Regions from separate parts of the Homo sapiens genome. Here all the other regions are linked to region 3. Evidence: fine-mapped expression QTL. A gene starts in region 3. Each other region holds a variant in brackets. All regions are shown on one strand. Distances are between the middles of the regions.

The links. PIP is the estimated chance that this variant, and not a neighbour inherited with it, causes the effect. A credible set is the group of variants that fine-mapping cannot tell apart.
Region 1: its variant is the best candidate, but not a certain one, in a credible set for the expression of CAV1 in subcutaneous fat (TwinsUK, PIP 0.84).
Region 2: its variant is the best candidate, but not a certain one, in a credible set for the expression of CAV1 in lymphoblastoid cells (GEUVADIS, PIP 0.67).

Annotation. Positions count from the first base shown.
Region 1 is chr7:116,556,912-116,565,096 of GRCh38, forward strand. CAV1 (caveolin 1) reads left to right here. Exons shown (of 3, transcript NM_001753.5): 3 at 2,035-4,268. The coding sequence ends at 2,376. It overlaps COMETT (cytosolic oncogenic antisense to MET transcript), which reads right to left. Exons shown (of 5, transcript NR_165033.1): 5 at 6,683-7,257. Among named protein-coding and RNA genes, the nearest start is that of CAV1, 36 kb to the left of the region's middle. The variant C/T (reference allele first, on the strand shown) is at 3,622.
Region 2 is chr7:116,574,485-116,582,669 of GRCh38, forward strand. The region is part of intron 2 of COMETT (cytosolic oncogenic antisense to MET transcript); the gene reads right to left. Among named protein-coding and RNA genes, the nearest start is that of CAV1, 54 kb to the left of the region's middle. RefSeq lists an enhancer at 2,551-2,845 and silencers at 2,984-3,123, 6,647-7,096. The variant G/A (reference allele first, on the strand shown) is at 3,119.
Region 3 is chr7:116,521,970-116,530,154 of GRCh38, forward strand. It overlaps CAV1 (caveolin 1), which reads left to right and starts at 3,067. Exons shown (of 3, transcript NM_001753.5): 1 at 3,067-3,123; 2 at 4,556-4,720. The coding sequence starts at 3,094. RefSeq lists an enhancer at 780-1,420 and silencers at 1,346-1,640, 4,049-4,438, 4,669-4,768.

The sequences.
Region 1 (8,185 bases), 35 kb after region 3:
TTAAAAAATAAAATTCTTTAGGTGTCTTGCAGTTGAATGCAGGAAAACCAGAGCCCCTTATTTTTGATAGTTTTGGGAAGAATGCAGTGTCAGAACACAAACCCATAATAGACAAATAATTTGCACAGAAACTTCATAAAAGTATTGACCTGATTTGCCATGTATTTGCCACCTTTTAAAACACACAACTAAATGTTTACCCTGTGTCTAGATCCAAATGGGTGAAGAAAAATGAGTGACAATACATCTACTTAAGCTCACTTACATAATTGTGGCCATGCCGTTTTTTTCACATTACATTATTAGAACATTGGACAATAAGTCAAGAAACAGAATGTTCTACAAAATAAACTTTAAAAATTGGTAAGCATCATGTGCTTTTTCCAGAAGACATTTTATTTTGTTGAATCAAAGGTGGCTCTTTGGCACTGAGTAGCTCCGTGGAGTCATGGCAGTCCTCATTCCCTAATCCTGAGCCTGCCTGAGTCGCTGCTGTCAGTCATCCACTTGTTGGGATTTCAAACTGCATTAAATCCCCTCCTATAGCTGTCACTGCCAAGCAGTTGCACTGGCTCTGTCCTACCTTTCTGTTGGTAATTCTGTTTTTAATCCTGTGCTTCAGTGTAGTTTATATAAATCTTTACAGAGGGATAAAACTTCCTGTAATTAATTGTTTGGGTGAACATGTACCTGGGAGAGCTATTGGGAAAGGGGCCAAATTTGCATTCCAGCTCCTTTCATCCCCACCCTTGAGCTAACCAAGTCCTGTGGATTCTTCCCTTAGCATCTCTGGAACCTTCTTTTCTTTTCTTTTTTTTATGACCACCTTTCCAGTCCTGGCCCTTCAAACTTGAGTGACAGCAACAGTCTCCCTGCCTTGAGTCTCTTTCCTCCTTCTCCCAGTGTGCATACGGTTGTCAAACTCATCTTGATAAACTACTGCATCGATTGTGGCTACACTCCCCTGCTCCCACATCTTCCATAGACCCCACTGTCTGTAAAATAATATTCAGTCTGGCCTCAACCTGTCTTTCCAGCCTCGGTGACACAGGTCTATTCTGCCTGAGACACTTACTATGACACCCTTGCTTGTTCCTGGGGCTTTGACACATTTCCAACGTCCCATTGTTCTTCCTCTCCAAATCAGCCAATTGCCCAAGCCCTGCTCAAATCTCCCACCTCATGAAGCCTTCTTGATGCCTCCCAGCACACCATGATCTAATTTCCTGAAGTAATTATGCTAATTGGGCATTTGAAGAATTGTTAACCGATTATCAACTAACTGCCCCTTAACATTGCATGTGTAGTTGTCTTCAAAGGCAGTTAAATTATGTCATGTTCCTTACATTGTACTGAGTGCCTCGTATCCTTATCCATGTTTGGGGGTTTTACTTTAAGTCAAGAAATTTAATCACATCCATTTGGTTTTCTCTAGAGCTGTAGTTCTCAACCTTTTGTGTGGTAGAGAAACACCTAGAGAACATGTTTAAAAATATCCTGGGTTCCACCCTTGAGAGATAATAAGGTCCAAGGGGAACCCAAATATCTGTGTTTCAGGTCAGCTTATTGGCTCATCCTATTATACCAACTCCTCAGAAGGCCAAGGTGGGTGGATTCCTTGATCTCAGGCGTTCAAGACCAGCCTGGGCAATATCGTGAGACTCCATCTCTTAAAAAAAAAAAAAAAAAGGATTAGCCAAGTGTGGTGGCATGAACCTGTGGTCCCAGCTACTTAAGAGGCTGAGGCAGACAGATTGCTTGAGCCTGGGAAGTCGAAGCTGCAGTGAGCCATGATCATGCCACTGCACTCCAGCCTGGGTGACAGAGCAAGACCCTGTCTCAAAAAAATAAAAATGAAAAAAATCTGTGTTCCCAAGTTCCAAGTGATGCTGATGCTGCTGGTTGCCTTTAAGCATCTCACAAAGAACGAACTCATAAATGCTAATACAGTATATGTCTATGGATACTGAATAGTGGGTTTTTTTTCTCTTTTCTTCTATTCTGTGCTCATGTTGTGTCACTTCTTCCTTTTAGATTGACTTTGAAGATGTGATTGCAGAACCAGAAGGGACACACAGTTTTGACGGCATTTGGAAGGCCAGCTTCACCACCTTCACTGTGACGAAATACTGGTTTTACCGCTTGCTGTCTGCCCTCTTTGGCATCCCGATGGCACTCATCTGGGGCATTTACTTCGCCATTCTCTCTTTCCTGCACATCTGGGCAGTTGTACCATGCATTAAGAGCTTCCTGATTGAGATTCAGTGCATCAGCCGTGTCTATTCCATCTACGTCCACACCGTCTGTGACCCACTCTTTGAAGCTGTTGGGAAAATATTCAGCAATGTCCGCATCAACTTGCAGAAAGAAATATAAATGACATTTCAAGGATAGAAGTATACCTGATTTTTTTTCCTTTTAATTTTCCTGGTGCCAATTTCAAGTTCCAAGTTGCTAATACAGCAACAATTTATGAATTGAATTATCTTGGTTGAAAATAAAAAGATCACTTTCTCAGTTTTCATAAGTATTATGTCTCTTCTGAGCTATTTCATCTATTTTTGGCAGTCTGAATTTTTAAAACCCATTTAAATTTTTTTCCTTACCTTTTTATTTGCATGTGGATCAACCATCGCTTTATTGGCTGAGATATGAACATATTGTTGAAAGGTAATTTGAGAGAAATATGAAGAACTGAGGAGGAAAAAAAAAAAAAAGAAAAGAACCAACAACCTCAACTGCCTACTCCAAAATGTTGGTCATTTTATGTTAAGGGAAGAATTCCAGGGTATGGCCATGGAGTGTACAAGTATGTGGGCAGATTTTCAGCAAACTCTTTTCCCACTGTTTAAGGAGTTAGTGGATTACTGCCATTCACTTCATAATCCAGTAGGATCCAGTGATCCTTACAAGTTAGAAAACATAATCTTCTGCCTTCTCATGATCCAACTAATGCCTTACTCTTCTTGAAATTTTAACCTATGATATTTTCTGTGCCTGAATATTTGTTATGTAGATAACAAGACCTCAGTGCCTTCCTGTTTTTCACATTTTCCTTTTCAAATAGGGTCTAACTCAGCAACTCGCTTTAGGTCAGCAGCCTCCCTGAAGACCAAAATTAGAATATCCATGACCTAGTTTTCCATGCGTGTTTCTGACTCTGAGCTACAGAGTCTGGTGAAGCTCACTTCTGGGCTTCATCTGGCAACATCTTTATCCGTAGTGGGTATGGTTGACACTAGCCCAATGAAATGAATTAAAGTGGACCAATAGGGCTGAGCTCTCTGTGGGCTGGCAGTCCTGGAAGCCAGCTTTCCCTGCCTCTCATCAACTGAATGAGGTCAGCATGTCTATTCAGCTTCGTTTATTTTCAAGAATAATCACGCTTTCCTGAATCCAAACTAATCCATCACCGGGGTGGTTTAGTGGCTCAACATTGTGTTCCCATTTCAGCTGATCAGTGGGCCTCCAAGGAGGGGCTGTAAAATGGAGGCCATTGTGTGAGCCTATCAGAGTTGCTGCAAACCTGACCCCTGCTCAGTAAAGCACTTGCAACCGTCTGTTATGCTGTGACACATGGCCCCTCCCCCTGCCAGGAGCTTTGGACCTAATCCAAGCATC[C/T]CTTTGCCCAGAAAGAAGATGGGGGAGGAGGCAGTAATAAAAAGATTGAAGTATTTTGCTGGAATAAGTTCAAATTCTTCTGAACTCAAACTGAGGAATTTCACCTGTAAACCTGAGTCGTACAGAAAGCTGCCTGGTATATCCAAAAGCTTTTTATTCCTCCTGCTCATATTGTGATTCTGCCTTTGGGGACTTTTCTTAAACCTTCAGTTATGATTTTTTTTTCATACACTTATTGGAACTCTGCTTGATTTTTGCCTCTTCCAGTCTTCCTGACACTTTAATTACCAACCTGTTACCTACTTTGACTTTTTGCATTTAAAACAGACACTGGCATGGATATAGTTTTACTTTTAAACTGTGTACATAACTGAAAATGTGCTATACTGCATACTTTTTAAATGTAAAGATATTTTTATCTTTATATGAAGAAAATCACTTAGGAAATGGCTTTGTGATTCAATCTGTAAACTGTGTATTCCAAGACATGTCTGTTCTACATAGATGCTTAGTCCCTCATGCAAATCAATTACTGGTCCAAAAGATTGCTGAAATTTTATATGCTTACTGATATATTTTACAATTTTTTATCATGCATGTCCTGTAAAGGTTACAAGCCTGCACAATAAAAATGTTTAACGGTTAAACAGTCAGCTTTATTATTTTTTCCCAAAACAGGTGTTTATGTGTCAGAGTCTGTGTATGTCTATGTATTTGTATGTAATGAGCATGTGCATAGTGTGTGTATGTGTTTGTATGTGTTTGTGGGGGGTAATGGTCTCCCACTTTAAAATTATTACAAAGTCACTTAGGATATTTCTGCTAAGGTCATCACCATTTATGAGTTGCTTCAGATAAAAGTTATAATTAATAACAAAGTTTTTTTAGCAATTTGCCCAATGTTTTATATGTCATCTAATTTGAGCCCCCAGCAAGCTTGTGTGATGGATATTAATACTCTTAACTTAGCGAAAGACACAATTTGCATTCGGGGCCAATGCCTTCAACTTTGCCATGCCTTAACTGGGTTTTAAAGAGGTATATTGCAGTCTCAATTTATGTTTGTTGCTTGGCTAAGTTTACCTTCAGGACTCCTATATTAGGGTTCTCCAGAGAAACAAAACCAATAGGAGATAGTTGGAGATAGATAGATAGATGATAGATGATAGATAGATAGATGATAGATAGATAGATAGATAGACAGATGATAGATAGATGATAGATAGATGATAGATACATAGATAGATAGAATAGAGATGATAAAGATAGAGAGATGAAGATAGAGATAGAGATGGACATGGAGATGGAGATAGAGAGATGAAAATATATATATAGAGAGAGAGATGGAGATAGAGATATATAGGGACAGATAGACACAGAGATAGAAATAGAGATAGAGATAGATGGAGATAGAGATAGAGATATATAGAGACAGATAGAAATAGAGATATATAGAGATGGAGCTACAGATAGAGATAGATGGAGATGATGAGAAAGAGGTAGATGGAGGGATAAAGATATAGATGGAGATGACAGGGGTAGAGATAGAGATAGATGGAGATGATAGAGATACAGAGCAAGAGCTTTATTACAAGGAACTGGCTTACACGATTATGGAGGCTGACAAGTTCCCAAATCTGCAGGGTGAGTCAGCAAGCTGGGAACCCAGGAGAGCTGATGATGTAGTTCCAGTCCAACATCAGCAGGCTCAAGAGCCAGGAAAAGCTGCTATTTTAGACCAAGTCCAAAGGCAGGAAAAAAATTCAATGTTCCAGTTTGAAGGCAGTCAAGCAGAAGGAATTCTCTCTTAGTTGGTGGTCAGGGTCAGGGTCAGCTTATTCTATGCAAGCCTTCAACTGATTAGATGAGGCCCACCCAGATTAGGGAGGGCAATCTGCCTTACTCCGTCTATCAGTTTAAATGTTAATCTTATCCAAAAGCACCCTCAAAGAAACGTTCAGAATAATATGTGACCAAACATATGGACACCCCATGACCCAGTCAAGTTGACACAAAAAGTCAATCATCACAGCTTCCAGTTCCATCTACAAAAATAACTATATGGCTTTGGACAACTTTTATTCCATATTGGTAATAAATAGCTTCATACATCACACATTTAGCCTGTAGTCCTAGCAGTTTGGAAGCCCAAGGCTGAGACTGGGGGATCAATTGAGGCCAGGAGTTCAGACCAGCCTTGACAACGTAGTGAGACCATCAGAAAAAAGAAAAGAAAGGAAAGGAAAGAAAGGAAAGGAAGAAAGAAAGAAAGAAAAAGAAAGAAAGAAAAGAAAGAAAGAAAGGAAGAAAGAAAGAGAGAAAGAAAGAAAGAAAAAGAAAGAAAAGAGAGAAAGAAAGAGGAAGGAAGAGAAAGAGGAAGGAAGGAAGAGGAAGGAAGAGAAAGAAAGAGGAAGGAAGGAAGGAAGGAAGGAAGGAAGGAAGGAAGGAAGGAAGGAAGGTAGGTCTCATACCTTCCCTGATGTGGGTGCTAATGGTCAAGCATTCTATGTTTTAATTTATAATCCATATTTTTAACATTGGGTGGAGGGGAGAAGTAAAGAGAGACACTCTTAACACAGAAGGCTGAAATCATAAAATAAAAAGGTCATGGCAATAAACACACAAAATATCAAACTTCTATATGTCAAAAACAGTAGAAACAAATACAAACAAATGATAAAGACTGATAACAGAAAGCATTTGAATGCATAGCATTATAATATACCTAAAAATAAACAGAGCTTTCATAAATTAAGAAAAAGATGAATAATAAGCCAAGATAGTTCACAAAAAGAAGTACACAACAATTATGCAAAAACTTATACTCATTAGTAAAGAAGTAGTAAGAGTTAAAGCAATGAGACATCATTTTCACTTAAGTCTGCAGAGACGGTAAACAAAAGTAATGTCCATGCTGGTGAAGATGCAGGCGAGTGGGCACACTCATTTATTGCATCTGTGAGGGTAACTGGTATAAACCATTTGGAAGACAATTAAATGTACACATGATATATCCCGCAATTCCTCTTACTAAATAAAAATAATAGAGGCAATACCAAGGTTCATCATCATAAATGTTCATCATTTTATTGTCAATAGCATAATATATTGGAAACAACATAAATATTAAAACAACCGAATTGGTTAAATAAATTATGGCATATGCATTTAACAGACTTCTATTAGCTTTTAAATATTGGATGGAATAGAATATTTAATGACATGGAAATATGTTCATAGCATGATGTTAACTTAAATAGTAAAATTTAAAAATCGTGTGTAGGATATACTGCTACTTTTTGTTTAAAAGTTGGGTGTGAGTGGATTTAAAGAATTGTGTCATTTCTGAGCTCCTGTCAGATACTTTACAGACATTATTGCAAATTTATACAAGATTTCAAAATAGATATTGATGGTCCCATTTTACAAATAAGGTTTAAAGGGTTTTAGAAAGTCACCCATTCACCATCATTAATAAGTTTTGGAGCTATTGTCTAATCCAGGGGTGTCTGTCCTCAAAGCTCTGTTCCTTACATTCATCTATCCTCCTGCTCTGTGCGGTTTCTGAGCCCTAAGCCTTTCTCCTCTTCATGAAGCTTCCTGTTCCCACTGGCTTGCAGAATTATTTCATCCACTCTGAAATGTATAATAAGCAAGTAATGTGAGCAGAACTGGAGTAAATATTAGCAGAAGTTAAGTAATAGTTAAAACTTGTATTCAACTTCGTATGTCAAGTGTATCCTTTATAAATGTATTAGTTTATGTAATATTTGCAATAACCCTATATGGTATGTATTATCATTATCATTCCAATTTTACAGAGTAAGAAATCGAGGCACAGAAGAGTCAAATAACTCGCTCAGAGTCACACAGCTAGTAACTAAGTCAGGATTATGAACCCATGGAGTCTGGCTCCAGAATCTAGGAGCTTAACTATGGCACCAAATCATATAGTTAGAGGGAATCCCGCAAAACAGAAAGCAAGTTGTGTCTCTACTGAGAACAAGTAATGGTCAACAATATGGGAGACAATTAAAATGCAAATTAAAACATTTTAAGTCTAAAATATAAAATTAAAACTGCTCCCAAAAATTTAACAAAATCTTTTATTTAAGCATTTACATATAAGTTTTTACGACATAAAAAATGTTTCATAATAGGATATATTCAGTCACATTTTAGTTTAGTGACTTTCAAGACCATAAAATGACTAAGTGATAAGTTGATGTACAGACTGCAAGACAGAGATTTTAATGATGGAAAGAAACACACTTTTTGAAATAAACTCTAATATTTATATTATTTGACAAATATTAAATAATCTCCATGGACTCAGATTAGGTTCTATCAAGTAACTGATAGAACCATTTTACCATTAAGATTCAAGATTTTTTTTCTTTAGGACTCTCCATTCATTTATTTGACTTTCATATTCATTCTCAGATCTGCCAGTTGCTTTAGTAATAATGAATCTCAAGACGTTGTGCATTACTCAACTTACCATCAATGCAAACTCTCTCCACTTCCCCAATGCACACCAATCCTACTAATACTTGCTCTCATC
Region 2 (8,185 bases), 53 kb after region 3:
TACAAAACAGCTGCTGCCAGAAGTTTCAATAAAAGATCACTACTGGGCACCCTTATAACTGTGGGACCATTAGGAGATTTAAATGTCTTCTTCACTTTGCCCATGGTAGGGAGTGAGGCTGCACTGAGAAACATCACTGGCATGAGGTCTAATTGCCTGCCCTATGATTAATGTTGCCAAGTGAATTCAGAAGTTGTCACAGTTCTCATCCTATGGTCCAGGCTCATTTATAAAATAGAGCAAAGGGAGCCCAGTGCTTTGAGAATGCCAATGCAAAATTATAATAATTACTTATTACATGATACAGTTGTTAAAGTATTTTCTGTGTTGTTCAAAAAAAAAAAAAACAAGGCATGTACATTGGTAGAGAAGGCAGAAGAAATACTTATGACTGTGTTTTCCTCTTGTAACTTTCCCAGGCAGAATTACTCTGGTCCCTAAGGCCTTGAGGCACTTTTTTCTTATCTCCACTGAACTGTAAACTACTGGGGTTCAGAGACCAATTTTTAGCTTTCATTGTATCTATAGGATTTAGCATAGTGACTGGCATAATAAAAATCTGCTAAACTAAAACTGATACCCTGTTATAGAATTTCCATGATGTATTCTAAGTTCTGTCATAGGCATGCAATAATTGTAAGTTCTCAAAATGGAGGGACCAAGTCTAGTCCTTTGTATCTTTATAACTCTGCAGCTCTGCTATCCAACAGAACTTTCTGCAATAAGGGAAATGCTTTATTTCTGTTCTAGGAAAAGGAAAGTTCTTAAAGAAATGTTCTTCCTTTAAGAGTCTATGTAAACACTATTCAATAAGAGCCATTGGCCACTTGCGGCAATTGAGTGCTTGAAATATGGCTAGTGAGGTGAAAAAATGCATTTCTGATTTAATTTCAATTAAAATCACCCCTTGTAGCTCATGGCTACTATGTCAGACAGAGCAGCACTGGACGCCAAGTGTGGTGGCTCACGCCCATAATCCCAACATTTTGGAAGGCCAAGACGGGAGGATCACTTGAGCCCAAGATTTCAAGACCAGCCTGGGCAATGTAGAAAGACCCAGTTTCTACAAAAAAAAAAAAAGTAAATTATCCAGGTGTGATGGCACAGGCCTGTGGAGGATCACCCGGGTCTGGGAGGTCGAGGCTAGTGAGCCATGATCGCACCACAGCACTCCAGTGTGGGAAACAGAGCGAGACCCCATCTCAAAAAAAAAAAAAAGAGTAGCACTGGAATCTAGGCTGATGTGTGGCTTTCAGTAGTTGCTATTTTAATGTTTATGAATGAATAAATGAATGAATGACTACACATACCTAATCCCTCCACAAACCTACTTCCCGCCAAACTGCTTTCAGCTGCAGAGTGCTGCAAGCATGCAATATTTACTTGGCCAAGTTGAGTTTAAATAGGTAGTCTACAGGAAAAGCAATTCGGTCATTCATTGGATATTGTGAGGAAAGTCTTTTATGGCTAACTTGAAAGATGTACTTCAAAGTAACCACTTAAGATTAAGTCATCTATAAGCCATATTTTCACTCCACATCTTACTGCTTAGGGCAGAGTAGTCAAGTGGAAAACCAATGGACTTGGGTACTAGCTACACTCAACTGTCTACTAACTGATTGGCTTTGAGGTTCAATTAACATGCAAAGTGCTTGACTTTTCTTAGTGGCAAAATGGGGAAATCCTATGTGCCATGCCTCCTTACCAGGATGTTGTCAAAAGCAAATGAGATAACTGGCATGAAAACATCTAATGCTAAGCAAATACAGATTATTATTAAAATACGTTACTTCAAATTATTTTAAATAACTATTATCATAGTAATGGTGCTGTTATTAACAAATAATTGAATATATGTTTTCTTGCACAGTTAAAGACATACACGTGCCCAAAAAATTATTTTCTTCCACTCTAAGAAGATTTCCATTTTTTCTCTCTGCCACTTCATATCTCAGAAGGTCATATCTCGCTTACTGGGCAGTTTCCAGTGACAATTCTACAACGATTCCTCTCACCTATCTCACTGAATGTGGCTGTCAGCATAAGTAGGTTACATTGTAGGGACTGTGTTTGTAGCTAGTGTTGGCATGTTATTTTTCCAGCCACCACTCCAAGGAGAAGAGTTCACATTGTGTTTCTAAATCACTTCCTGAAGAGTGATTATATGGGATTCTTTCAGAAATAGAAGGAATGGAAAAAGCAAGACCAGAAAGTAATTTGGAGAGCATCCAAGATTGATAAGACACCAAAGTAGGGGGACTCCACAGCACTAGGAGCCTGTGCTCTGATCCCTTCCAGCGCCCTAAGATGTGATGGGATCTCAGCAAGAAACAGCCACCTAGTGTTCCTAAAGAGGCTGGAACATGAGCACTGGGCTCCTAGACTTGGCAATAACCCTAGTGCCCCACAATGGCAGCACCAGCAGAGCCTCCATCCTTAAAGAATAGTACAGCTTTGAACACTGAGCATGTCAGCTATGATCTTTGGGGATCAAATAACAGGGCATTCACATGGCACCAAGAGGAGAACCATCCAGACAAAGCTTGACCTTCGCACCAGTGAGGCCGATTGGAGGCTTGGAGCATATTAAATTTATTTAGAGAAAGGAAAGAAATGTAATATTACTCACATCCTGTGTTTGAAAGAAAAATCATCCTGCCCACTTAATAACTGTGCAGGGCTGCCTTCCATGCCACATTTTTTACACAGACCATAGGGAGGTCTGTGTGACTTTGTGACTCACCCTTTATCACAGCCCCCACCCCCATAGAACTGCGAGGGCTGAGTAGGAGACAAGTCCAGTTACACTCACAGGGTTGTGTTCAAAAACCAGTGTTTCTCCTTAACTAACCCTCAAGCAATTACCTCAGATCAAGTGAATAGACCTGACTTAAGCAAATTTGGCTGTTCACGAGTTTTAAGTTACTCTGGCAGATATTGATCACCACCAGCAGCTAGGAACAGGTGAGAACTATAATCCTCCTCCCCAACAATCTCATTACTGGGTGATGAGTTATATTGAAAGCACATTTGACCAAAGATGCCACATGTTCAAATACTCAAATCAACTAGCTAACCTGACACAATAAGAGCAGTGAAATCCCAGGCAACAGCATGC[G/A]CGAAACGGCCACTCAAAGCAGATGTATCAGTATTCTGGTGAAAGTTTCAGCTAAACTTCTGATCAGAAGTTGAGCCACAGGATTCTCTGTTGAGCTATTGAATGAAGCCCTGGTCCGAGAAGAGCCCTATGAAGAGGGTAGGCTGTGGAGCTCTCTCCAGATTCTTACTCCCTGTTGTTTACAGAAGGAAGGAATTGCTTACATAATATTTCCAGCATATTCACATATCTTAATCACCACTCGTTTCATCCATGGAAACTTATTTTAGCATCCCCTATGCTAACTAACAGGCTTTTTTGTGTTCATTGGAGATAAAGCTATAATAGGACAGCTGATTAGGGTCGTTCAAATGCTGGCTGAGGATCCCTAAGTATGAATTCCCTAGCCGACTATTTCACAAGTTAACTATCCACCGCTAAGACGTCCTCCAAAACACAAACACACATTTCTTTATTAGTGTTAGAGGATATGAAATAATTTACTTGAAAATACAATAATACTGTTTTCTCTTCAGAAGAGTTCTCCCCCAGATGGCCAAGAGGTTTGAACTCTTGCCTTTTGTCAGATATAGGGCTGAACCTTAGAGTCCAGTGTATTCCTTCATTGTCTTTCCTCTAAGTCTGCCAAACAAATAAGGCTCTGGTGAACCCATAGAGCCAGCTACAGATAACCACACATGTGTGAAATTGTAGTGCGCACACCGCTTATGCGTAGCCTGCTCCTGGTCTTCCCAGACTACCAAAACATACGTGAGCCATTCTTAACAGCAAGTGCAAACCCCGGAGTGCTGTTTCAAACCTTCAAGATCCTCCCATCTTCTAATTACCTCATTGCTCCATTTGACCCCACAGCATTTCTACTCCCTGGAATGGGGACACCTGGAGAAATCCACACATGAGGCCTAAACATCCTAGTACCCGCAATGTATCGATTTTTTTCTTTCTTCTAGAAGCAGAGGATGGTAATAAATTGTGTTGCTAACAACAAAGGTCACTGCATAGCTATCAGCCCTATGCAATGATAGCTGTGAAGGACAACAAATAATAGTTTTGCAAATCTCCTCTTTGAACATTCTTTCCTTAAGAATCCTGTTTGGCGGACCTGTTGTGAAATATGTGTCTCCTTCATCTAGTGTTGCTCAAACTGTGAGTGCTGACCTAGTGTCTTAGTCTGTTTGAACTACTATAACAAAAATATCACAAGCTGGTTGGCTTATAAACAGCAGACCTTCATTGCTCACAGCTCTGGAGGCTGGGAAGTCCAAGATCAAGGCACCAGCAGATTCAGTGTCTGGCGATGGGCCTCTTCATAGAAGGTGGTCTTTCTGCTGTGTCCTCATGTGGTAGGAAGGGGTACAAGAAAGGCCTTTTTTATAAGGACACTAATCCCATTCAGGAGAGTTCTACCCTCATGACTAATCTTCTCACAAAGTGCCCACCTCCTAATATCATCACCTTGGGGGTTAGGAGTTCAACATATGAATCTGAGGGGGACACAAACATTTTGACCATAGCACCTATTCTAGAATTGTGAAATTGGCTTTCATTTATTAACAAAAATATAACTGAATAGAATGGAAAAGAATAAAAGAGAAGAGAGGAGAAAGAAACATATAGATCACAGAGAGCAAGGGTAATCAGATGAGTTTAATAAGACATTTCATGTTTATGAGAGTATGTATACTGAGTTGCAATGTAAAGCATATTTCTTAGTAAAAAATAATATTTGAAAAATATATAAACCACTACCACAATTTATTTGGAGATAAATTTTCTTTGGATCTCAAATAAAGTAAAAGAAAGTTCTAATGCAATTTTTTTTAACTTTTATTTTAAGTTCACAGTTACAACTGCAGGTTTGTTACGTTGGTAAACTTGTGTCATGGAGGTTTGTTTTACAGGTTATTTCATCAGCCTGGTATTAAGCCTAGTACCCATTAGTACATTTTTCCTGATCCTCTTCCTCCTCCCACCTCCTGCCCTCCAAAAGGCCTCAGTGTGTGTTGTTCCCCTTTATGTGTCCATGTGTTCTCATCATTTAGCTCCTACATATAAGTGAGAACATGAGGTATTTGGTTTTCTGAAAATTTCCATGTGTCTATCAAGAATAGCTTGGGAGGAAGGTTGAGAGTAAATGTTATCATGATCCCAAAACATCTGCCTGGGGAAACATTATTTTTAAAGTATCAGAATGACTCCCTCATGCAGCCCAGGCTATTTTCTGGAAAAGTGACATCCTAGTTAGCCTTGTCATAGAAGTAGGCCCTAAGGCAAGGATTTGCACACAAGCAGTTAATTTGAGAAGAATAGGGAGTATCATCAGCGGGAACTAGGAAAGCAATACAAGGAAGGGAAGGGAGCTATAAGGTTACTATTAAGTCTGCTACCATGGTCAGGTTATGTTGGTGGGAAAACTTGGGGAAACAGCACCTGCTGCAGAATTATCCCATCCAAGGGGCAAGAGAACAAGTATTTATTTCCAAGTGGCAAGTTGGTTGAAGGCTGCTGCCGGGGCAGGGGGTGAAGATGGTGAGTGTTAATTCTCTGGCACTTCTGGCCTACCTGCTCCTGGGCAGAGCAAGACAGAGAAATTTTCACTGTTCTGCAGAGAGAAAAAAGACTATGGGCCCCACCATGCAGATACTGAAAAGAACAAAGGTAATAAACAGAGCACTCAGGGCATCTATTCAGGTGGCCTGATCCTACAGAGACTCCTCCAAAAGGCTGGGGGCATCCTCTACATCCTTGTCCACTCACACTCACCTTGGAGGTGATTCTTTCCTGGACTAAAGACCCAGATGTATCTGAGGGTGAAAAGCAGGTATTGTTTTAGTACTAGTTTTGGTAGCAAGTGAAGAGCACATAAAATTTTCTTGGTTGTTCCAAAATGTCCACCACTTTGTAATAAGAACAAAGTCTGCACAGATCTAAAAGGAAAATTCTAATTTTAGCAGATTTGAAGCCCCTCAAGTTAGTTTCCCTGGCTCTATGCTATTAGCCACATAATCCAACTTTGCCTGCTTCTTGTCCCTCCCAGATTTAGCAGTGAGGCTGAAATTCTGCAGTGCCATGAGTGCCTGCACAGTTTCTGAACTTTCCCTCTTCTGGCCTCATATTTCCTGAAGCTGAAGGGAAGGGGACAGCTGACTGCCATTCCCACAGCTTTAGACCCTTCCTCTCACTTCTGCCCCGGCAAGGGAAACTGAGTTGTATCAGTCCTGCTCCCTGGGCCCCTGACACCATGACAGGGAAGAAAATCTGCCAAAGATCTATGGTTACTTGGATTCACTGAGCTGAGATGGTCAAATCTAATGCATCTTCACATCCTGTGCGGGTAAATGCCCCACCTAAGGGAGATGTTACTTATAGATGTAGAGCAATTCCAGGGATCTACCAGGGGACTGGTAGAGCCACACTTCCTTAACAATCATAGAATTACAGATTCACCTGGGGCTCATGGCTCACGGGTTGCCAAGTTACCTCACCAAGCAAATGTGATGGAATTACCAAGACAGGTTTAGATCTGTGGTGGAACAGGCCACAAAGTTCCTGAGATCTCTCTGACTTCTGGCTTAGGGACTCAACCACTATGTCTACCAGATTCAAGGAAAAAGAAAACAGGTGTGTATGACTCTGCATTCCTCAACCCCAAACAGTTGAAGAAAGTGGAGGCTTAGTTCCACCAAGTCTGGCAGAGCACAGAGATTCCCCTCCGTCAGGTGGTATGGCCTAGAATTTGACTGTACACATCACATCCAGATCATTTGTCCCTGAGCACTTATCCAGAGCCCAGACTACAGCTTCTCTCTCAGTTGATTTTATTAGCCAAGGAATCATGACCTAGTTTCTGCCTTGGAGTTGCTGAGATCTCTCTGGCTTATCCCAGGATCAGAACCTGTTTGGGCCCAGATCATTTGGCTGTGACCTTCCTATCCTGCAACACTGCCTGGTTCTTCCAAGTAATGCCCAGAAGACTGAACCCTATTCTCAATGTCTCTGCCACTGGCCTCTTCAAACTAAAGAGACTCTCCTAGAAGCAGGTACAACTCATCATCTGACTTCAAGACTCCCAATTCCTGGAAGAAAAGCACCTGTGCTTGACATAGCAGGGTCTTGACATTAATACCAGCCAAGCTGAGAAGTGGACTTTGGCCACTGAGGCAGAGACTGGCTAGTTTATGCATGAAAATCTTTTACCTTTCCTCCTGGGCACACAGCTAGACAACACTTCCCAGCCTTTCTTGCAGTGACCATGTGCCTAAGATCTGGCACTAGAATCTGAGCAGAAATTGTGTGCTCCATTTCTGGACCTGGATGATAAAAATCTCATGTGTGATTCTACACTCTTCCTCTATATGTCAGCTGGATATCTAGACCAAGGGCATCCATGAAAACCCCATGTTGAAAGGACACAACATCTCTCAGCTTGGGTCCTCAAAAGGCTACACAGAGGCCGAGCATGGTGGCTCATGCCTATAATCCCAGCTACTCGGTAGGCTGAGGAATGAGGATCACTTAAACCCGGGAAGCATAGGTTGTTGTGAGCCAAGATCGTGCCACTGTACTCCAGCCTGGGGGACAGAGCAAGACCCTGTCTGAAAAAAAAAAAAAAAAGACTACACATAGGAAAGTACCATCCCCCACAGCCCACAGCCTACCCCACCCTCCAGCACTAATGGACTTTTCCATGCGTAAGAAATTTCCATTGTGTGAGCCACTAATATTTGAAGGTTTATCTGTTATAGCAGCTGGACTTACATTATCCAACACAGTCACCCACGACCAAAGCTAGGCTCCCAGCCAAGTAAGTGACCCCAGCTGTCTGTAGCTTGCTCCCCTCTCACAGTTGTGGAGGTCCCAGCTCTCCATACTGCCCAAGGAGACAGTTTGAGATACGTGGGTGAGTAGAAGGGTGGGAGACACAGGAGATGTTTCTCAAGGGAAAAGCTTTGACTCTTCCATGTTTTGTAATCAGGAATTTTCCATGGTCGCACAGTGAGTCAGAGGAAAAGCCATAATTTTCATCCTCCCTCTGCTGGGGCAGCTGTCTTCCTGCAGGATGGGGTC
Region 3 (8,185 bases):
AGAGGGCAAATGAATTGCCAAATACTCATTTTTTAAGTAAATGATTTGGAGAAAGTTATTAACTCGCCTCCAAGCCCAAAGTTACCTGTGTGAGAATCAAACAAAAACAATTTTGCTTATATCATCTATTCATTTCCAATTTTGTACCTATGCTAACAATGTTCTTCTTCTCCTTTTATTTCTCATAAATCGAGAGCAGTTTCCCTAAGTCAGCTATTATAACCAGACTAAGATGTGTTTCTCTTTGGTGCCAGCTTCTTGTTGAGGCAGGTTAATGAAGAGATTGTGGTTTTTCCTCTCATTAGGAATGCATTTTGGCATTGACAACGCTTCACTGATCATTATGATTCCATGTGTTGCTGTTGATTAGACTTTTCTACATGGACTTTCCCAGCGAGATTGCTTTCCCTCGGTTGAGTACTAGTTAAGCGTTCACTTAAAGGCCTCCCTGGAAAGTCCTTTTCTTGCTGGAATGCAGGACAAGCTCCCTCTGTGTTCCTGTTGACTTTTTTCACAGTTAACATTACTCATCACAGCTGAAGACTGAATAACAATAGATGGGAAGTGGTTTCCACATTTTTCCATAGAACGTAACCCCAGTTGACTTGTATGAAGGAAAAATTAAATGAATTTATGGCAGTCATTAGAGGTGGGCTAGGTACTATAGAACATATTGAACCTGACAGTCCTTTTCTAGTGTATTGTGTTTGTTAATATTTGTTAATATAATTTGTTCAAAGAATTTAGAAATGCAATCTGACAGAAATGAAATTAAGAAAACGCAACTTTTTGGCCAGTTGTAGTGGCTCACGCCTGTAATCCCAACACATTAGGAGACTAGGGCAAGAGGATTGCTTGAGGCCAGGAGTTTGAGACCAGACAGGGTAACAGAGTGAGACCCCCGTCTCTACAAACACTTTTTAAAAATATTAGCAGGGTGTGGTGGTGCACACCTATAGTTTCAGCATTCTATCAGGAAACTGAAGTGGATCACTTGGGCCCAAGAGGTCCAGGCTGCAGTGACCTATGAATGCACCACTGCATTCCAGCTTGGGTGACAGAGGACACCCTGTCAGAAAGAAAAGAAAAAAAGAAAAGGAAGGAAGGAAGGAAAGAAGGAAGGAAGGAAGGAAGGAAGGAAGGAAGGAAGGAAGGAAGGAAGGAAGGAAGGAAGGAAGGAAAGAAAGAAAGAAAGAAAGAAAGAAAGAAAGAAAGAAAGAAAGAAAGAAAAGAAAGGAAGGAAGGAAGGAAGGAAGGAAGGAAGGAAGACCCTAATTATTTGTTTACTCATAAATAAGCTTATTTTAAAGCATTCCAAATTTTTTAACTTTTATTTTAGGTTCAAGAGTACATGTGCAGGTTTGTTAAATTTTGTGTCACAGGGATTCGTTGTACAGATTATTTCATCACCCAGCTACAAAGCCTACTCCCCAATAGTTATTTTTCTGCTCCTCTCCCTCCCCGACGCTCCACCCCTCAAGTGGGCCCCAGTGCCTGTTTTTTCCCTATTTGTTTCCATGAGTTCTCATCATTTAGCTCCCACTAATGTGGTATTTGGGAAAATCCAACTTTTGAAAGATCTTTAGTCTGCTAATCATGAATGGCCAACATAATTACAGGCATGCCAACATTTGTAACATTGTGACACTTTCCCTGCCATTCTTAGTTAAAACTGATCTTTTGTTCCAAAAATTTTTGCTACCAACAATAGCCTGTCCTTTATAGTTCTTTTATACTTTTGTGTCTTCTCTCTAACTAAATAATCAACTCTTTCAGCATTCCATCCATTTCCCTTTCTCCTCCCTCTTACTCCCAACCCACATTCCCCTCTCCATTTTAATTTTAACCTGTGCCCCTTCAAGTGTACTCCAGCTTTTTTTTTAAAATAATTTCAAGTGATACTTTGACTTTTGACTGCATATGGAAGCATAAGTAACATGTCCTTTCATTTTTGGATAATGAGTTTCCTGATTAATTACAGCTCAAGAGTAAAATGACTGATTACTATTTAATTCATTTTGTGCTTCTTTACAATAAAGTAAAGACAGAAGCCCCAGATTCAGGAACAGACAAAATACTTTAATCGCTATCACATTTTTTTTAAGTCTAGTCAATTAGAAAAGTCAAATCTTTCCTCACAGCCAAGCACATTAAAAAAAAATCTTCTCTGGTAATAAACTTGAAGCTTTAAATAATTCTACAATTATAAACATTTTGTGTATTTTGCAAATATGGCATAACCTGTTGGCATAAAATTCCATTGTTCCAGAAAATATCGGTAATAAAATTATAGAAAAGTTAAAGATCTTCATTTCTTATTTCGAAGCGTTTGGGAGACATTTCAGAAACGGATGGGAAATGTTAAATTCTGCATGCCTGCTTAAGTTTCCATCCACACCGACTAGATGTAAACGAGTGTCACCAAAAGTACACCACAGGCACCCACACAGATTCCTTCCATAAGGGATCCACAAAGTTTAGATGTGAAATGTACCTAAAGGTTCCTAGCCGTCTTTCATCCCTCCCTCTGTGAAACAGGGAGACACATGTGTTTTAAGGCAGAGATGGAACTTGGGCGATGGGCGGGGGGTGGGGGAGGTGGGAAGGGACGGCTTAGGACAGGGCAGGATTGTGGATTGTTTCTGCCGCCTTGGTTGCCCATACTGGGCATCTCTGCAGGCGCGTCGGCTCCCTCCACCCCTGCTGAGATGATGCACTGCGAAAACATTCGCTCTCCCCGGGACGCCTCTCGGTGGTTCAGAGCAGGGAAAATGTTGCCTCAGGTTTAAAATAATCTGCCCAAGCACCCCAGCGCGGGAGAAACGTTCTCACTCGCTCTCTGCTCGCTGCGGGCGCTCCCCGCCCTCTGCTGCCAGAACCTTGGGGATGTGCCTAGACCCGGCGCAGCACACGTCCGGGCCAACCGCGAGCAGAACAAACCTTTGGCGGGCGGCCAGGAGGCTCCCTCCCAGCCACCGCCCCCCTCCAGCGCCTTTTTTTCCCCCCATACAATACAAGATCTTCCTTCCTCAGTTCCCTTAAAGCACAGCCCAGGGAAACCTCCTCACAGTTTTCATCCAGCCACGGGCCAGCATGTCTGGGGGCAAATACGTAGACTCGGAGGTAGGCATCCGTGGGGGGGCGCCGGCTCGGGCGTGCGGGGAGTGTCCGCTTCTGCTATCTGCCTCTCCAAATATCCCGACTGCTGCCCTGGCCCCAGCCCTCTCTCCACTTCGGAGCACTCCTCTGGCGTTGGCACCGCTGAGGAATGGGCCTGGGCGGGGAGGTGAAGAGAAGCCAGGAATGTTTTATGTTTTCCTAATGGAGAGGGGGCCTAGGGAGCCCCTGAGCTAGGAGGACACGGAAAAGGGGATTGGGGTCCTGAGATTGGGTCTGTTGGGCCCAGGACGCGTTTTCTGGATGGGTCTAGGATGCTCCCTTGTCGCGGGACCCCCGCGGTCCGGCCCTGCCTGCTGGGGGTTCGAAGAGGTGGAGTGCAGGGTGGAGGTGTTATTTACCCGAGTCCTGGGGACAGTCCCCGGGACTCTCCGCCAGGCGCCCAGACCGGCAGGTCCCGCAGGCGGCGCGCGGTGTGTTTGCACTTTCCAAAGTTCTTGAACCATCTCAAGAACTCCTTCTGCATCTTGGCGTCTGGCAGGGGTGTTCCGAGAGAGGTAGACCTCCCCTCCCCAAACTGCCACCATCACTTCCAACGCCCTCCACGCGCTGGAGCTCTGCCCGGGTGTGGAAACCTCGTCTTCCAACACGTAGCTGCCCTTCAGCCACCCGCCCGCAGCCTGGGAGTGCCCTGAGGGTGGGTCGGGGGAGCTGCGCAGGTGAGACTGAGTTCTAGGACATTTAGGGGGTCTGGTGCCTGGCTCCGCCAAAAATGGGGACTTTCGGGATTGTGATCATCACGGCGGATTGAGCAGGGAGAGCCGTGGAGGGACAAGAGAGGGCCGAGGCAGGGTGGGGGGCGCGGGCAGGTGCGAGGGGGATGCGGCCAAGAAGCAGCGATAAAGGGAACATTCCACGGGTCGGGCGGCTGCTGTTGGATCTTAGATAAAGCTGGAAGGGATTACCGGGGCAGGGGTAATAGGGACCGGGGACGGGAACGCGAAACAGGTGAAGCGCTCAGGGCGAGAGCGACTCGGCTTAGGGAGTCCGGGAGAAGCCTGCGGCTGCCCCCTCGCCGCCGAGGTCCTGCGGGTCCTGCGGGTCCTGCGTGCTGAGCCGGGGCGTGCGCGGGCGGGGGCCTTCGGACCGCGCGGCGGGGCCTGCCCTGACCCCTGGCGGCGGGCGGGGGAGGCAGGCGCGCCCTGCAGAGTACAGAGGGGTGTGGTGTCCTCTGCGAGATCCTCTTAAAAAGCTGGCTACGCGCAGGCGGTTTCTGTGCACGGAGCCGTAGCTGTCGGAGCGGTTAGTTCGATTTCGAGCTCGAGGTTTCCCCCGCCGCCAGGCTGACTTCTCATCGCTTGTTTTTCTTTTTGCATTTTTCCTCCCACCGCCGTTGCCGCCCTCCCCGTCCTGGCCGTCCGCCCTCCGCCCTCTGCAGGGACATCTCTACACCGTTCCCATCCGGGAACAGGGCAACATCTACAAGCCCAACAACAAGGCCATGGCAGACGAGCTGAGCGAGAAGCAAGTGTACGACGCGCACACCAAGGAGATCGACCTGGTCAACCGCGACCCTAAACACCTCAACGATGACGTGGTCAAGGTAAGCCAAGGCGACCAACAGGGAAGGGCTGGGACAGCTCTCCTCTGGCAGTTAGCCCGTGCATCCTTCTTTAGCATTGCCGTGTACGCACACCCCACCCCGCCCCCTACACGCGCACACACACACACACACAGAGTTTTGTGGGTTTGATGTGTGGGAGCTCCCGCAGTCGGCAGAAACGTTACATCTCCCTTCCCCCATCTCCCCCCAATAGTTAGTTCAGCTGAAATTCAGCTAAAGTGAGTTTTGTAGAAGTTCCTATAACTACACTTTTATCCTAGCAAATGAGCCTATTGACCTCAGCAACAGACGGCCCATACTCCTTGGGACGGTGAGATGGTTCCTATCCATTCCCAGGTTGAAAGTCTAGTGACAGGTCCCCACTGCACGTGGCATTAAGACAGTCAGATAATTGTGTCAGGTCTTGTGCTGAGGATGAGTCAGAATACAAGATGGGCATGTTCCCCCAACTAAAACGATGGGAAGTGATTTTCTTAAAAATACTACAGTGGATGGAAATGCCTAGGACTAAAGACAAAGAAAATACGTACTTATTCATATACATATGAAAGTTACTTTAACTAGACTAACAAGTCACTTGTGCACAACTAAGCAAATTTACAAAACCAAAAACAATGTATGCCTCTTGGTTTCTTCTATCTATGGACACCTGCACTTAGATGTGGAAAGCTGCTTCTTTAGTAGCTACCTGGGTCAGCCTGCCCTGAGCTAATGGCACATTCAGGTTGGAGTTCCTTTTCATACTTTCAGGATGTGCTTGGTGAGATTAAAAATAATTGGACTGGGTTATTGGCCAGACTTAGATCTGACTCAGTGGTCAGTTTTAAATTATCATTGTTATTAGATTTTGACCCTTTTAGCCAATCTAGTGGGAGGAATTTATTGCCTAAACACATCTGGATTGGGATATCATGGGCTAGAGCCATCCTTGGCAAAGGGTTTTCTCTGAGAAATGGAGGGCTAAGGAAAAATCCTGGCTCAGGGACTGCAGTGTGAAGATCTACTCCTATACAACCCCCAGCAATCAATGAGGCGGATGAGCAATTTCCACCCACCACGCCTGCTATCTATGGATGGGAGGAGCTATAGTTCACAAACCGTTTACATTCATGAATAATATATTTCAAAAGGGGAAACAGTTTAATCTGTAACTGGAAGGGAAAAAAAAACTGTCAGAATTGACTCCCTTGGCTTCCTGGAGTAGGAAAAAGGAAAATTGGAGCATTTGCAGCTTTTTTTGACTAGCTGGATTATGGAATATTTAAAAGCAACAGCAACAAAAGTACCTTATAAACTAGAAAATAGAATTGCTAAAAAACTATTTACTAAAAACATTACCTTAAAGGGAGAGGATATTTGTGTTTTCCCCCACCCCCACCCTTCTCATGTGGCTTTGAACAAGAAGGAGAGTTGCCAGGAAAAGAGGCAGATTTCAGAGAGGGCTGGCTTCACTGGATCCTCCCTGTTGTTCCACTGCACTGTGAGTGAGATTCCCTGGAGCAAGCGAATCTCCCGGGATGAGTCAGAGAGGCCAACAGTGTGGATGTGGGTCTCCACACATAGCATGACTAAGTTGAGAAAGAAAGGCCCCACTGGGAAAAGAGACTTCAACACAGATGGAAAAAAAACATAACAGGCTTGGAGGAAATAGCAGTTTACAAAACAGCATTTCAAAGAGCAAGTGTGGGGATCCTCAAATTAAAGAAATTAAAAGAAAAAGCTAGAGCAAGCTCCTGCTAGCCTAAAGAAACCAAACCCTGACTACTTGCTCATAGAACTGTGAGCAAAACAAGACAGTCAAACCAAAAAATCCACCTAGAAAAGAATTTGGCAGTCTCACTCAGATGCCTGGCCTAGAGGGGACTTCAGAGAATGCCCTACAGAGAGACACCAAGACTACAAATGCAAATTCTGCCCAAAGAGTGCCTGGCCGATGAACAGGGTCCTATCTACATCTTATGGAGACTCCTATTTTATAAATATGTATCCTCAAGTCCAAGCACAAACAAAATAACAGAAACAGGGATGATTCTCTCCCAGTTTCCATGACAGTAAATAATAAATTTCCCTAAATTTTACTTTCAACAACATAGACTTTTTTTATTTTTATTTTTATTTATTTATTTATTTATTTTTTGAGACGGAGTCTCACTCTGTCACCCAGGCTGGAGTGCAGTGGCATGATCTGGGATCACTGCAACCTCCACCTCCCAGGTTCAAGCAATTCTTCTGTCTCAGCCTCCTGAGTAGCTGGGACTACAAGTGCACGCCACCATGCCGGGTTAATATTTGTATTTTTAGTGGAGACGGGGTTTCACCATGTTGGCCAGGCTGGTCTTGAACTCCTGACCTCAAGTGATCCACTGGTCTTGGCCTCCCAAAGTGTTGGGATTACAGATGTGAGCCACTACACCTGGCCAACAACACAGACTTCTTAAAAAAATCATGACAATAATTTTGGGTGCTTCTTAAAAGCACCCAAAGCTTTACTGCTAATGCATGGTAGCTTAAAACTTCACATAATAAGAAAGAACCAGTGGCCAATGGAATCTACTGTTAAAGGTACCCAATCAAGTAAGGAAAAGTTGGTCCTAAAAGCAAGCAGCCCTGTAAAAGCTGCTCTGTCCAATATGGTAATCACTAGCCATTTGTGTTTCCATTTAAATTTCAAGTAATTAATATCAAGTAAAATTTAAAATTCAGTTCCTTAGTCACACTAGCCACGTTGTGAGTGTGCAACAGGTAAAGCTAGTGGCACAGACATAGAACATTTCCATCAGCACAGAAATCTCTATTGGACAGTGCCAGATTAGGGTGTTCTCTGCATTGTAAAAGCATCCCCTTGCCAAGTTAAAGAAAACAACAACAAAACTCTAGAGAAGAAATGAAACCCCAGTTTCATTTCTGGAGAGGAAAGAAAACTCATGTGTGGCATGAGTTTATATTCAAGAAGGTGCAGCATTATTACCTATTTTACTAGTAATAATGACACACATTATAGTATACAATCCAGTTCCAATAAAATTAATTTCTCATCTTACTAAAAGCTTGCTGCTCCACATTATGAGACAATTTACCCAAATATAGACATTTACCCAAAAATATTAAGTAGCTTGTGAATACTTTTTAAAATTTCCTTTAATTAAAGTGGTCACAAACTCAAACCCTTCATTCTCCCTCTGAGATTTCTGTGTCATCTTTTGTTCACATTGTTATTCACATGTTTATTATGTACTTATTTTGATTTTCTAGATAAATAAAATGGCTTCAAATCTATAATTCTGATAAAATTAGCCATCAATTAATTTATTTATTAAACCCATGCAATATGCTAGATTAGATGCTTTGCTATGTAATTCCTACAATAAATCCTAGCAATCACAAAGATTACAGTTAGTGAGACGACATGCACACAGGTAAAAAGTGTTTTTAAAAAATACATAC